Homo sapiens: one gene and its partner. Changing the gene in region 2 together with the main gene of any one other region gives a genetic interaction. Each region holds a gene or a part of one and is shown on either strand. Other genes may lie near its edges. The genes, in order: EIPR1 and RAB18.

Region 1 (4,642 bases), on a different chromosome or scaffold from region 2:
AGGAACGTGTCCTTTTTGCAGGTCGGGCAAGACTTGTCCTAGAATCGTCAAACCCCAGAGCTGATGGGCCTGTGAGCTCAGCCCATCCTTCCCCATCATTACAGATGAGGTGATCGGGGCAGCAGAGCGCAGAAGTGGCCCCTGCGGGGACACCTGGCCAGGTGGAGGCCTAAGGGAGATGGAGCCCAGAGTCCAGGGCCCAGGTGGCTTCTCCAGTGGGAACACGCACCAGACACAGAGAACAGACCCCGCACACCCAAAGGAACCACGAACAGAGGCTGCGAGGTCAGTGTTTGAGGATTCCTAAGGATAAGCACTGATGAGTGTAGGAGCCTGTGAGGGGTCCCCGACAACTGAGACGCGGGAGCCCAACCCCAAGCTCCGAGGTGAGGGAGGACGGCACCTCCAAGGCCACCAGTGCGTGCGCGTGGGGAGGAGGCCCTGCCCGGCTCACAAGGTGGGCAGGACACAGCACAGGATGGGCTGCAGAGACCAGGGGAGGCCCAGGGCGGGCAGAGCCTGCGTCTACAGCAGTGAAAATGCATCACACCAGCTCAGCCCAGGGCGCGAGCCAGGTGCCCACCAGCAGCCAGCATGGCTCCCGGGAGTTCCATGCTAGGGCGGCGTAGACAGCACACGTCTGTCCATCTGCATTTTCCCTGGGTCAGGAAAGAGAAAATGGACAAAGACCCAGGAGATGGGGTCACAGGGCAGAGCTCCTGAAAGAATGAGCCGAGCACCTGTGCAGCGTGGATTTATTTTATTTCATTTTTTACTCTCAAGAGAAAGAAGAGTTACTATTGCAGGAACAGACATTTTTTTAAAAAGCGAAACTCCTGACACCCTTAAAACAGAAAACATTGTTATTCACATAATAATGTGGGGCTCTGTCTCTGCCGACAGGGGCTGGGTTCGGGCATTAGCTGTGCCGTCGACAATAGCCCCATTCACCCCATTCATAAATGCTGCTGCTACAGGAAGGGAACAGCGGCTCTCCCAGAGAGGGATCCACCTGGAACACGAGTCACCTCCAAAGAGCTGCGACTGTTTGAGAATCTGCCAAGAGGAAAACCACTCAATGGGACCTGGATAACCCAGGCCCGGGAGTCATAGCAGGATGTGGTACTTCAGGGCCCTGGGCACCCTGTTGATCACGAGCCTCCCGTCATAGCTCAGGGAGGCAAACAGCCACGGGTCAGCCGAGGACCAGTCCACGGCATAGACGCTGTCCTCGTGCTCCTCGTAGGTGGCGATCACGTTGTCCTGCAGGGGCTCCTTGCTCCTGCAATGCAACAGAGGCAGACGTGAGCGCAGCAGCTCCGGCGGGGCGGGCAGGAGAGGGGCAGGGAGGACGCGAGCGCTGACATCGGGAGACACGGGAGGTACTGGGGCCTCAGCTTTCTCCGCTGTGGGATGGGAAGAATTAGAGGAGCCCACACCGAGGACGGTGGGGTGGTCCCTGCAGAAGCCCAGAAACCCTCACTGTCACTGTGAGGAGTGGGCATTTCTCAAAAGGTTTATGGAAATCGGCGACATTGGCACATGGTGTCTTGGTTTCTTCTGTCCTTGGCCCCCGGGTGCCTGGGTTGATATTTTGTTGGAGGTCTTCCAAGGGCTTCCTTTAGCTCAGGGGAAAGACTGGGGGAAGTAGTCACCGTGTCTGGGTAACACAGGATGTAAACGCCCCTATTGCTTGAGCAGAAAGGACCCTGGGAAGCAGCGGGTCCAGCTCCTGGCTGTGTAGGAGTCAGAGGCTGGGGCACAAGGAGCCTTGCTAGGATGGGAGTGGGGCTGGGCTGAGGATCCCCCAGGACACCAAGAGGAAGACGCCCTGGCCCTGTGGGAGCAGCAGAGGCGTGACCTGCCTGGCCTCCCCCAGGGTGTTTCCCACCTCGCCTCCCTTGACTGTGAGTTACCCTCACTGGGAGCCCTGACCAGGGGATCCTCACACAAGAAGCACCACTTCCTCAGCACAGCGTGCATGGGGAGGGGGCCCTGCCCGGCTCACAGCGGCCACTTTCCGGTGGACACAGGCTTCTCTGGCACTTTACTTCCCATTTCACAAAAAAATTCCCACATAATTTGTGTACCGCATTCTAACTGCTTTTGCATTTCTTTGTAGGAAAATGCTTCACCCCCCCAGCAAGACGGACCCTCCAGAACTCGCATGGTCTCTGGGAAGCTGGCTTCCCACAAAGTGGACCTGCCAGTGGTCAACTGCTGTTGTGGGACAAATGCCAGGTGCAAATCCTTAGGAGGAATCATGGTTTCCTGAATGCAGCAGGACATCAGGACTGAGGGATGTCCTAAGAAGTCTGCGTAGCCCCGATCACCTCCTCCCTTCCTATCTTGCTCCCATGACATTGCCGCCCAGAAGACAACGCCAGCAGTCTTCCGACCAACGGGCCCATCAGGCTCCTCCCCTAACAGGGACAGACATGGTGAGGAAGTGCAGACTCCCTGGGCCACTGGCAGAGAGGACGGTAAAGGGAGCCAGGCCCACAGGCACCGAGAGACCACTGGGCAGATGCTACCGTGCGTGTGCTTAAATACTATTCTATGGCAGACCGAGTTTCTAAGGTTTGAACAGAAAAACAACAGAGTCTGGCTCATGCCTGTAATCCTAGCACTTTGGGAGGCTGAAGTGGGCAGATCACTTGAGCTCAGGAGTTTGAGACCAGCTTGGGCAACATGGCAAAACTCTGTCTCTACAAAAAGTTAGCCAGACATGGTGCCATGGGCCTGTTGTCTCAGCTACTTGAGAGGCTGAGGTGAGAGGATCACCTGAGCCCAGGAGGTCAAGGCTGCAGTGAGCCATGATCGTGCCACTGCACACCAGCTTGGGTGACTTTTTTGTTTGTTTTTGTTTGTCTCAAAAACAAAACAAAGGCAACAGAGTCAAGAGACAAACAGATGGGCCCATCGCCACTGCAGAAAGGGTCCAAAGACAGAGACAATCAGATGGGCCCATCGCCACTGCAGAGAGGGTCTGAAGACAGAGACAATCAGATGGGCCCATCGCCACTGCAGAGAGGGTCTGAAGACAGAGACAATCAGATGGGCCCATCGCCACTGCAGAGAGGGTCCGAAGACAGAGACAATCAGATGGGCCCATCGCCACTGCAGAGAGGGTCTGAAGACAGAGACAATCAGATGGGCCCATCCCCACTGCAGAGAGGGTCCGAAGACAGAGACAATCAGATGGTCCCATCGCCACTGCAGAGAGGGTCTGAAGAAAGAGGTCTTCTCACAGAGGAATTTTAGACCAAGCTCAGGTGGGTAGGGGGAGAATTCAGACAAAAAACAGTGCAAAGGATCCCAAAACAGAGTGACAGACCCCATCGTATCTAAGGGCTCTGTCCAACTTCACAAGGTTTTATTCCAGAACCTCCTTCCTCTGGAACCTGGGGCAAGAATCTCTGCGGTTGCAACTGAATTGCATCTAGTCACCCCCCAGGAAGCGGCTGCCACTTCTAAAGGTGGACTGCTCAAGGACACAGGGGCCCTGGCACTGCACCGCTGACCAGAGGCGGGCATGAAGAGGCTGCCCTTAGCGATCTCCCATCTCACCTAGGATCAGAAATCAAGGTGCATAGGAAAAAGCTTTGGGAAAATCCAGAACCATGATGGTGTGACTAGAAAACCCACATCATGGTTGACCACATTTTGTAGAGTATCTAGAAGTGAAGTAGGACCCGGGTTTGAGACTGGGAAGGTTGGCCTGGAGTCTCCGCCCTGCTACCAGCCAGTGGAAGGCCCGTGAGCTGATGGCCAACAACCCGACCCCAACACGCTCAAATCCACGCCAGTGAAGACACTGACTGTGATGCGTCTCTTACAGGGAGTGCTGTGAGGATTGGGATATATTCGTTCTATTATTATTCATGCTCAAGTTTGAAGACCAGTGAGTCTTTTAAATCTTACAGATGGCATTCAATAAGAATACAAACACAAATAGATCTATTTTAAAACCGCACCTAACCCTAACGCACCTGCAGTGCCTCCCACCTGGGCTGCTAATGACGGCACCCCTGGAACTGTGAGTCCCCACAGCTGCAGTGGGTAAGGAGAGTGTCCCCCAAATGCACTCCTGGAAACTTTCTACATACACAGCCTGGCTCGGGAGATGGCTGTGCAGACAGGAGGCTCTGGTACAGCGTGAGCCACTCTGCAGTGCGTGCCCTTACTTCTCTTCAGAACGGTGGTCCTCCTGGTCACTGATGTCATCGTCGTCTACCAAGTGGCCGAAGGGCTCCGACGAGATGGACACCATGTTGGAAAGGATGACTCTGCTGTCACTGCTGCCCGTGAGGACCAGCTGGTCATGAGAGTGGTTGTAGCGGACGTTCCACACCCTGCAAAGGGCAAGGCAGCTGCTGAAATGAACTGTCACCCGCAGGCAACACCAACAATGGATCACACCGGCTCTGAGGGCCCCACTAGGCTGGGGCTCACGTTAGGCACTGCCAGGCAATCGGCCCCCAGTCACAGGGCCTGACATAAGGCAGTTTTCCGCTGAGGTTGGGTTTACTGCAGGTTTCTCTTAAGTCCCAAGAGACAGACAGGGAAGACTAAATGTTGGCTGAAACCTACAGGAGGAGAAGGCTTATCACGCAACATTTCAGACAAGCTTTCTAAAATT
Region 2 (7,293 bases):
TTGTTTTGGAAAACTCACATACTGGTATGTATAGTGGTATGTATACATATCCCTTGATATTTTAAAGAATGCTCACTAAAATGTATTCAGTGGTATACTTTTATAGATGTTCTTCTCTGCTCTTCTTATTGTCTCAATTATCCCTTTTAGAATGACCCTGTATTATTCTTACAGCCAGGGGGAAAACCTCTCTTCTTTAAAAAATGTTTATAGGCCTATGGTAAAAATGTCTCTTCAATAATACCTGCCAGCCTTTTTATTAGGCAGGAACTAGAAAATAAATTTAAAACAAAACGAAACTATGAGAGAAAAATCTCACTGCAACCAGCAAGTCTCAGATACTACTCTAATCTACGGATTTCACAAAGCAGCAGCAAGGCCGGAAAGGGATAATAAATTAACCATGAAAAGCATATGGAAATCAGGCCCCCACTTTAGTATGGAAAAAGCCAACATTCTTATATCGTTCAACACATTTTACCATACTCTAGTCCAACATTTTCCAAATTGTTTTCTGTTAGACATTACCGTTCTGATTGATATTAAACATATTTGGGGGAAAGGGGCAAACAGGTTAACAAATTTAAAGTATTGTATGTTAGGAAAAACTGACATAAAAACATTAAACACACTTACACAATTATTTGTTATTTGGGGATAAATGTGTATTAGAAACAGTGTGCCATTCAGAGAATGCCAAGAAATATGACATCATACAATGCATGAACACTTGCTGTTTTCAATCTGTGACTGATGTACAAACAGCATTTACCATTTAACCACCATGTGGAAATAAGTCTCGATTTGATGACTGATCAGTTCTAATATGATTTCTTATATTACAAACATATATGTATAATTATCACAGTCTATGTGAAAAATAGATATATAAAACAGTATATATTTAGAATATACATATATATATATAACCGATCATATTTAGATAGACAGATATAGATAGATCGGTATGTGGGTGGGTAAATAGACTGATGAAAGGGAGACACAGAGAGAGACAAACATAGACACTAAGCATCTTGGATATTTTTGACAGTTAATGCTACCTTATTTGACACTAGCATGAGCGGTCTAGCTAGTACAGTAACGGGGATCAGAATGGTTGGATTGACAGGAAAACGAAAAGAAGCCAGTAAGGAAAAACGAGGCATTAAAAATAAGCCCAAAGTTTGAAACCTCAAATTTTATAAATATCTATACTAACAAACAAGAAAAATAAAATTTTTTCCTAAATATCACGTCATTCCTCCTCCCCTTAAAAATTGTCTTTAGTGTTAGTTCAGTCTAGATGGTCTTTTTAAAACTTCAAAGAAACATATCCAATTATGATTCTCTTTGGCAGATGAGATGATTTTTTAATATTCTGTTCTGTTTTGAAATATTCATAAAGAATTATGCATTGTGAAAATTTAAACAAAACATAGCTGCCTAATTACCCAATTATAAGACATTACTGTTTATCCTTTAATCAGTATCAAATCTCCCAAAAGTTATTTAATACAAATTGTTCATTCACCACCTCTAGAACACTACACAAATCAATTTCTGCATCCTTAAAAAGTAAAGTTTAATATTTTAAAAATACATTTTAAAAACTCTTACCCATATTGCAAGTTTAGCCTTATTTCCATCCACTGAAATTGTTTTCACCTTAAAGTCAACACCTTAAAGAAATGAAAATTTTGATAAGTCTCCCAGTAAAACAGACTTTTAAAATCCATTACCAAGAAAACCAGAAAACAGAAAAGTCACTATTATCAAATGCCCAATTCACACCCCAACTTCTTAGAATTCTGGATGTGGAGATAAAAAGTGTCATTAAAATCCAGGATCTTAGGATTTAATCAGGATAAATGAAAATCAAATGCTTGTAGAATTCACTCACTCACCTACCTTCTATTCTTCCAAAAAGGAAAAACGAAATTCAATTTAAGGTGATAACTCACTATGCGTGTTAAAAGTCAAGAGCTGCAATTACAATGCTCACATAAAGAAGACTATCCATGGCTGACTGTGGGTCATGGCAGCTTCCAGGGGCTCCCTAAGCATCCACATGCTACTGTTAAGAGTGCTGTCCACTGCCAGCCAACCACTAACTCAGATCTTGACTGTAAGCAGCTTGGGGAACCGGTAAAAATATTAAAGGGCCACTCACTCCTTGTCATATAATCTCTTTATTTTTATCCTAAAAAAATACTATTTTTATGTAATAACCTAATCAATAACTTGCTACAGCACAATTTCAATAAAACAATTTATACATGAAAACATTTATATACAACCATCTAAGAATCTTCATAAGTGAAAGAGGAGTGCCCAAAGTTCTATGAAAAGCTTCTATAAGTACTAATTTATGTAAAGAAAAGAGTTTCATAAGAAGTCCACAAGGCTTTATTACAGCAGCCAAAAAAGAAACCTCTCCCTTTCCAGGAAAAGGAGTTGACACATGCCATCTGGCTTAAATGAACAGCAACTGCCCACATGTCTTTCAAGAGTTCAGTCTACCCCACTGGCCAGAGGGAAAACATTAGCTCAAGAAGCTTGGAAAGAAACTTTCAAAATATCTTATTAGCTTGTCACAATTAATTCAGAACAGCCCCAACTAAGATGAACAGCACCCTCACATACTAAATGCTTAATAGAACACCTGTCACCAATATGGAAATATATTTGTAATTCTTGGAAGACTTGTGGTGATCCATTACATATACAAATTCAGTAATAAAAATGCACATTCAAAATGTGCATTATGCCAGGTCTTTCTGTATACCAAATATATATATTTTTAAGTTTGGTGTTTTGAGCTGGGGTGATAAAGGAGTTGATAAAGCCTAGAATGATGGGCAACCATTAGTAAAAGGACAGTGTTGATTACATAGCCCAACAAAAACCTAAATATAAAATTTCTTCACAGCCAAACAAACAAAAAATCCCACATGCTAAATAATCTTGTATTAACCAGGTCTAAATAAAGAAGTTACTATGCCATTTTAAAAGTGGAACCATCTACATAAACAACATGAAATTATCTACATTTTCTTCCTATTGCTTTAAAAAAAAAAAAGCAAAGCACAAACCCTGAGAAAATTCAGAGGAGGAAAATGGTTCTGACTTGGTGCAGGTACTAAATGACAGCCACTGGCAGACACTACACAGAGATAGCCTCTGTCATGCACACTCTACAGTTAAATTCTCAAGGTTTTTCAGGGAGTATATAAAGAACTAATTTTTTTCCTTAATAATCCCAGATACATGTTCAAGAGCAGACAAGCATCTTTCCTATGAGCTAATTTGTTTACCCAAGAAAAGAAACCCACCGCTTCCAGAATGTATGTGTTTTCTTCCCATACCCCAACTCCTCTTTCTCTATTATTATTTCCTGGTTCTGCAAGTTTGTTGTGAACAGTCTAATGACTGTCTCTGACATAAGAATAATTTGCATGTGGATAACTAACAATGTCTCTAAGTTATGCTTTTGACATATTATATCTGAAACTTACCAATACCCATCCACAGGAGACACTGAACACTGTCGTCCTGCCATCAAAGCCAACAGACACAGGTAGCCTGAAGGGGCACCTAATCTAAATCCAGACCCCTAAAGTCCCCAGTCATCTTCCCTAGGTTCCTCTGGTGAATCTCACATGCAGCAATTGAGCTCTTCAGATCTCACATGCTAAAACTGCTTCTTCATCATGCTTCTCTTTTGTTAAGTGGCTGATAATTTATCTTAATTGGTAGCAGCAGTGGGAGTCTTTTTGAGAGATTTGATTTTGCCAGTTTCTTACCCAATTTGATTAAACTGTGTCTTCAATCTCTTCATGTGGATAACATGGAGCTCACAACAGAAACAGAAGAACTGTCATCTCAGCTTTTCCTTGTTCATTTGTGTTTGCATTTTTAATATGATCTTTAATTCAGTTTCTTTGCAAGAATCTTTTTTTAGGCACACTGGTAAATTTTCATGTTGCACTTACTGCTTATTTCAAAGGCTCCATTAACTATATTATCTAGTTTTAACTAAAATAACCTTCATGAAAAAGGCCAAAGAAAATATGAACTCAACAGTAGATATATGTGAATGGGAGACCAGAAGATATTAATGGAAGCAGAAGCACACATCTTGTTGAAGAGGAGAAAAATCAATCAATAGAAACTGACTCAGAACTGACACAGATGTTACAACTGTACACCACATGTTCAAAAAGTAGACATGAGTGACATAAAAAAGGATCAAACAGAACTTTCTAAAGATGAAAATGGGCTGGGCACAGTGGCTCACGCCTGTAATTCCAACACTTTGAGAGGCTAAGGTGGGAGGATCGCTTGAGGCCAGGAGTTTAAGACCAGCCCCAGCAAAACAGCGAGACTTCGTCTTGACAAAAATAAATTTTTATTTTTATTTTTTTTTTGAGACGGAGTCTTGCTCTGTTGGCCAGGCTGGAGTGCAGTGGCAGTGATCTTGGCTCACTGCAAGCTCTGCTTCCCAGGTTCATGCCATTCTGCTGCCTCAGCCTCCCAAGCTGCTGGGACTACAGGCGCCTGCCACCACGCCCGGCTAATTTTTTGTATTTTTAGTAAAGACGAGGTTTCACCGTGTTAGCCAGTATGGTCTCAATCTCCTGACCTCGTGATCCGCCCGCCTCGGCCTCCCAAAGTGCTGCGATTATAGGCGTGAGCCACCGCACCCAGCCAAAAATAAACTTTTAAAATTAGCCAGGCATGGTGGCTTGCGCCTGTAGTCCCAGCTTCTCAGGAGGCTGAGGTACAAGGATGGATCGAGCCTGAAAGGTCGAGGCTGAAATGTGCCGTGGTTGTGCTACTGCAGCCCAGCCTGGATAACAGAGCAAGACCCTGTCTCAAAAAAAAAAAAAAAAAAAGGTAAAAATGGCAATGTCTGAGATGAAAAATACACTGGATGGGATTAACAGCAAATTAGGCGCTGCAGAAGAAAACATCAGTGAATGTGATGACACAGCAACAGAAACTACCCAAAAGGAAGCAGAAAGAAAAGGTTCAAAGAAAATGAGAGACCATCAATCATCTGTGGGACAACTTCAAGCAGCCTATTATGCAAACAATGGAGTTGAGGAAAAAGAAGAGAGAAGGGGGGAAAATATATCTGAGAAATAATGGCTGAAAAATTTCAAATTTGATGAAAAATATAAATCCACAGATCAAAAAAGCTCAATAAGCCCCTAGCAAAAAAAAAAAAAAAAAAAAAAAGAAGAAGAAAAACTCGGAGACATCATAATGAAATTGTTCTAAGTATTTTAAATTAAATATTTTAAACAAAAAGAAAAACAACATCAAAATTTGTATGATGCCACTTAAGCAATACTTAATAGGAACATTTATAGCACTAAACACCCATATTAGAAAAGACAAGTGATCTAAAATCAATGACCTAGGCTTCTAAACTAAGACAATAGAAAAAGCAGCAAATTAAATCCGAAGAAGTAGAAGAAAGAAAATAAAGTTCAAACCAGAAATTAAAAACAGAAAAACAACAACAAAAATCAATGAATCCAAAAGTTGCTTCTAAAAGAAAACCAATAAAACTGATAAACTTCTAGTCAAATTGATCAGGAAAAAGAAGACAAAAAAAATCATTACAAAGGATGAAAAAAATCACACCATTTATAGATTGTACAGAAGTTAAAGGAATGACAGAATGTTATGAACAAGTTTATGCCAATAAATTTGACAATTCAGATAAAAATGGACAATTTCCTTGAAAGATTAAAAGCTACCAGAATTTACTGAAATAGATCACAAAGAAAATATATATAGAATATAGATAAAAAAGGAAATGTGAAGAGAGTCAAAGCATATTATTATGAAAAATCCCTAAACAGATAAGAAGGCAGTAATGGTAAGAATTCAGGAACAAAAACTCTTTAAGGAAATAAATAGCAAAATGGCAGAAGTCCTTCCTTATTGGTATATTAAATGCAAATAGAATAAACTCTCCTATCAAAAGATTGGCAGAATACTTTTTAAAAATTCAACTACATGCTTTCTATCAGAGATTCACTTTTGGTCTAGAAACAAATATAGGTTGAGAGTGAAAGGACAGGAAAAGATATTCCATACAAATAGTAACCAAAAGATAGCAAAGGTAATTATTCTAAAATCAGACAAAATAGACTTTAAGTCAAAAACTGTTAGGAGACTAAAACAAAATATTTTGATAAAAAGGCCAATTCTCAAGAAGATACAACAATTATAAACATATACACCACAGAACAGAAGTCCAATATATACAAAGCAAACACTTGATAGAATTAAATGGAAAAATAGTGTTACAACCATCAGAGATTCTATTTATTTATTTATTTATTTTCCTAAACACAAGCCCTCCACTGAAAATACTGATTATTTTTATTGCCTGACTGAATTCCAAAACGTCTTTTTTTTCCCCACAAATTACATTTTATTTAGATTTTTACAATTACAGTTTCATTACAAAGGATACAATATCAGGACCAACCAAAAAGAGAAACACATAAGGATGAGGTCTGGGAGGGTCCCAAACACGGAGCTTCCATGCGTCTCCCCTTCCTCTCCCTGCAGAACCAGAGCACATCACCCTCTTGTTTTTTTTTTAAATCCTCCCATATACTTTATCCTATTTTTTTTTTATTTCAATAGGTTTTTAGGAAGAGGTGGTATGTGGTTACATGGATAAGTTCTTTAGGGTAATTTCCGAGATTTTGGTGCACCCATCAACCGGGCAGTGTGCACTGTACCCAATGTGTAGTTTTTTAAATCCCTCATCCCTCTCCCACCCTTCCCCGAGTCCCCAAGTTCCACTGTATCATTCTTATGCCTTTGTGTCTTCATAGCTTAGCTATCACTTATAAATGAGAACATACAATGTTTGGTTTTCCATTCCTGAGTTACTTCACTTAGAATAATGATCTCCAGTTCCAGCCAGTTTGCTGCAAATGTCATTATTTTGTTCCTTTTTATGGCTGAGTGGTATTCCATGGTATGCATATGCCACATTTTATCTACTCATTGATTGATGGGCATTTGGGCTGGTTCCATATTTTTGCAATTGTGAATTGTGCTGCTATAAACATGCATGTGAAAGTGTCTTTTTCACAGGATAAACAGTCGGAGATTTTAATACACCACTTCCAATTATGAATAGTGTACTGAGATATATTATCAACAGAAAACAAAGGGTTTGAAGGCCAATTAGAGCCAACAGAATACTCCGTATAACAACAAATTTTTTTCAAGTATACATGAAACATTCTCCAGGATAGG

The links.
Region 1: changes in RAB18 (region 2) and EIPR1 are lethal when combined (synthetic lethality), as found in Homo sapiens cells (one study listed by BioGRID).

What each region holds. Positions count from the first base shown.
Region 1 is NC_000002.12:3,188,227-3,192,868, forward strand, and holds the end of EIPR1 (EARP and GARP complex-interacting protein 1), read right to left. Parts: intron 4,356-4,642; coding exon 4,188-4,355; intron 1,283-4,187; coding exon 1,108-1,282; 3' UTR 744-1,107; downstream 1-743. UniProt on the Homo sapiens protein: Acts as a component of endosomal retrieval machinery that is involved in protein transport from early endosomes to either recycling endosomes or the trans-Golgi network.
Region 2 is NC_000010.11:27,521,214-27,528,506, reverse strand, and holds part of RAB18 (ras-related protein Rab-18), read right to left. Parts: intron 1,680-7,293; coding exon 1,618-1,679; intron 1-1,617. UniProt on the Homo sapiens protein: The small GTPases Rab are key regulators of intracellular membrane trafficking, from the formation of transport vesicles to their fusion with membranes.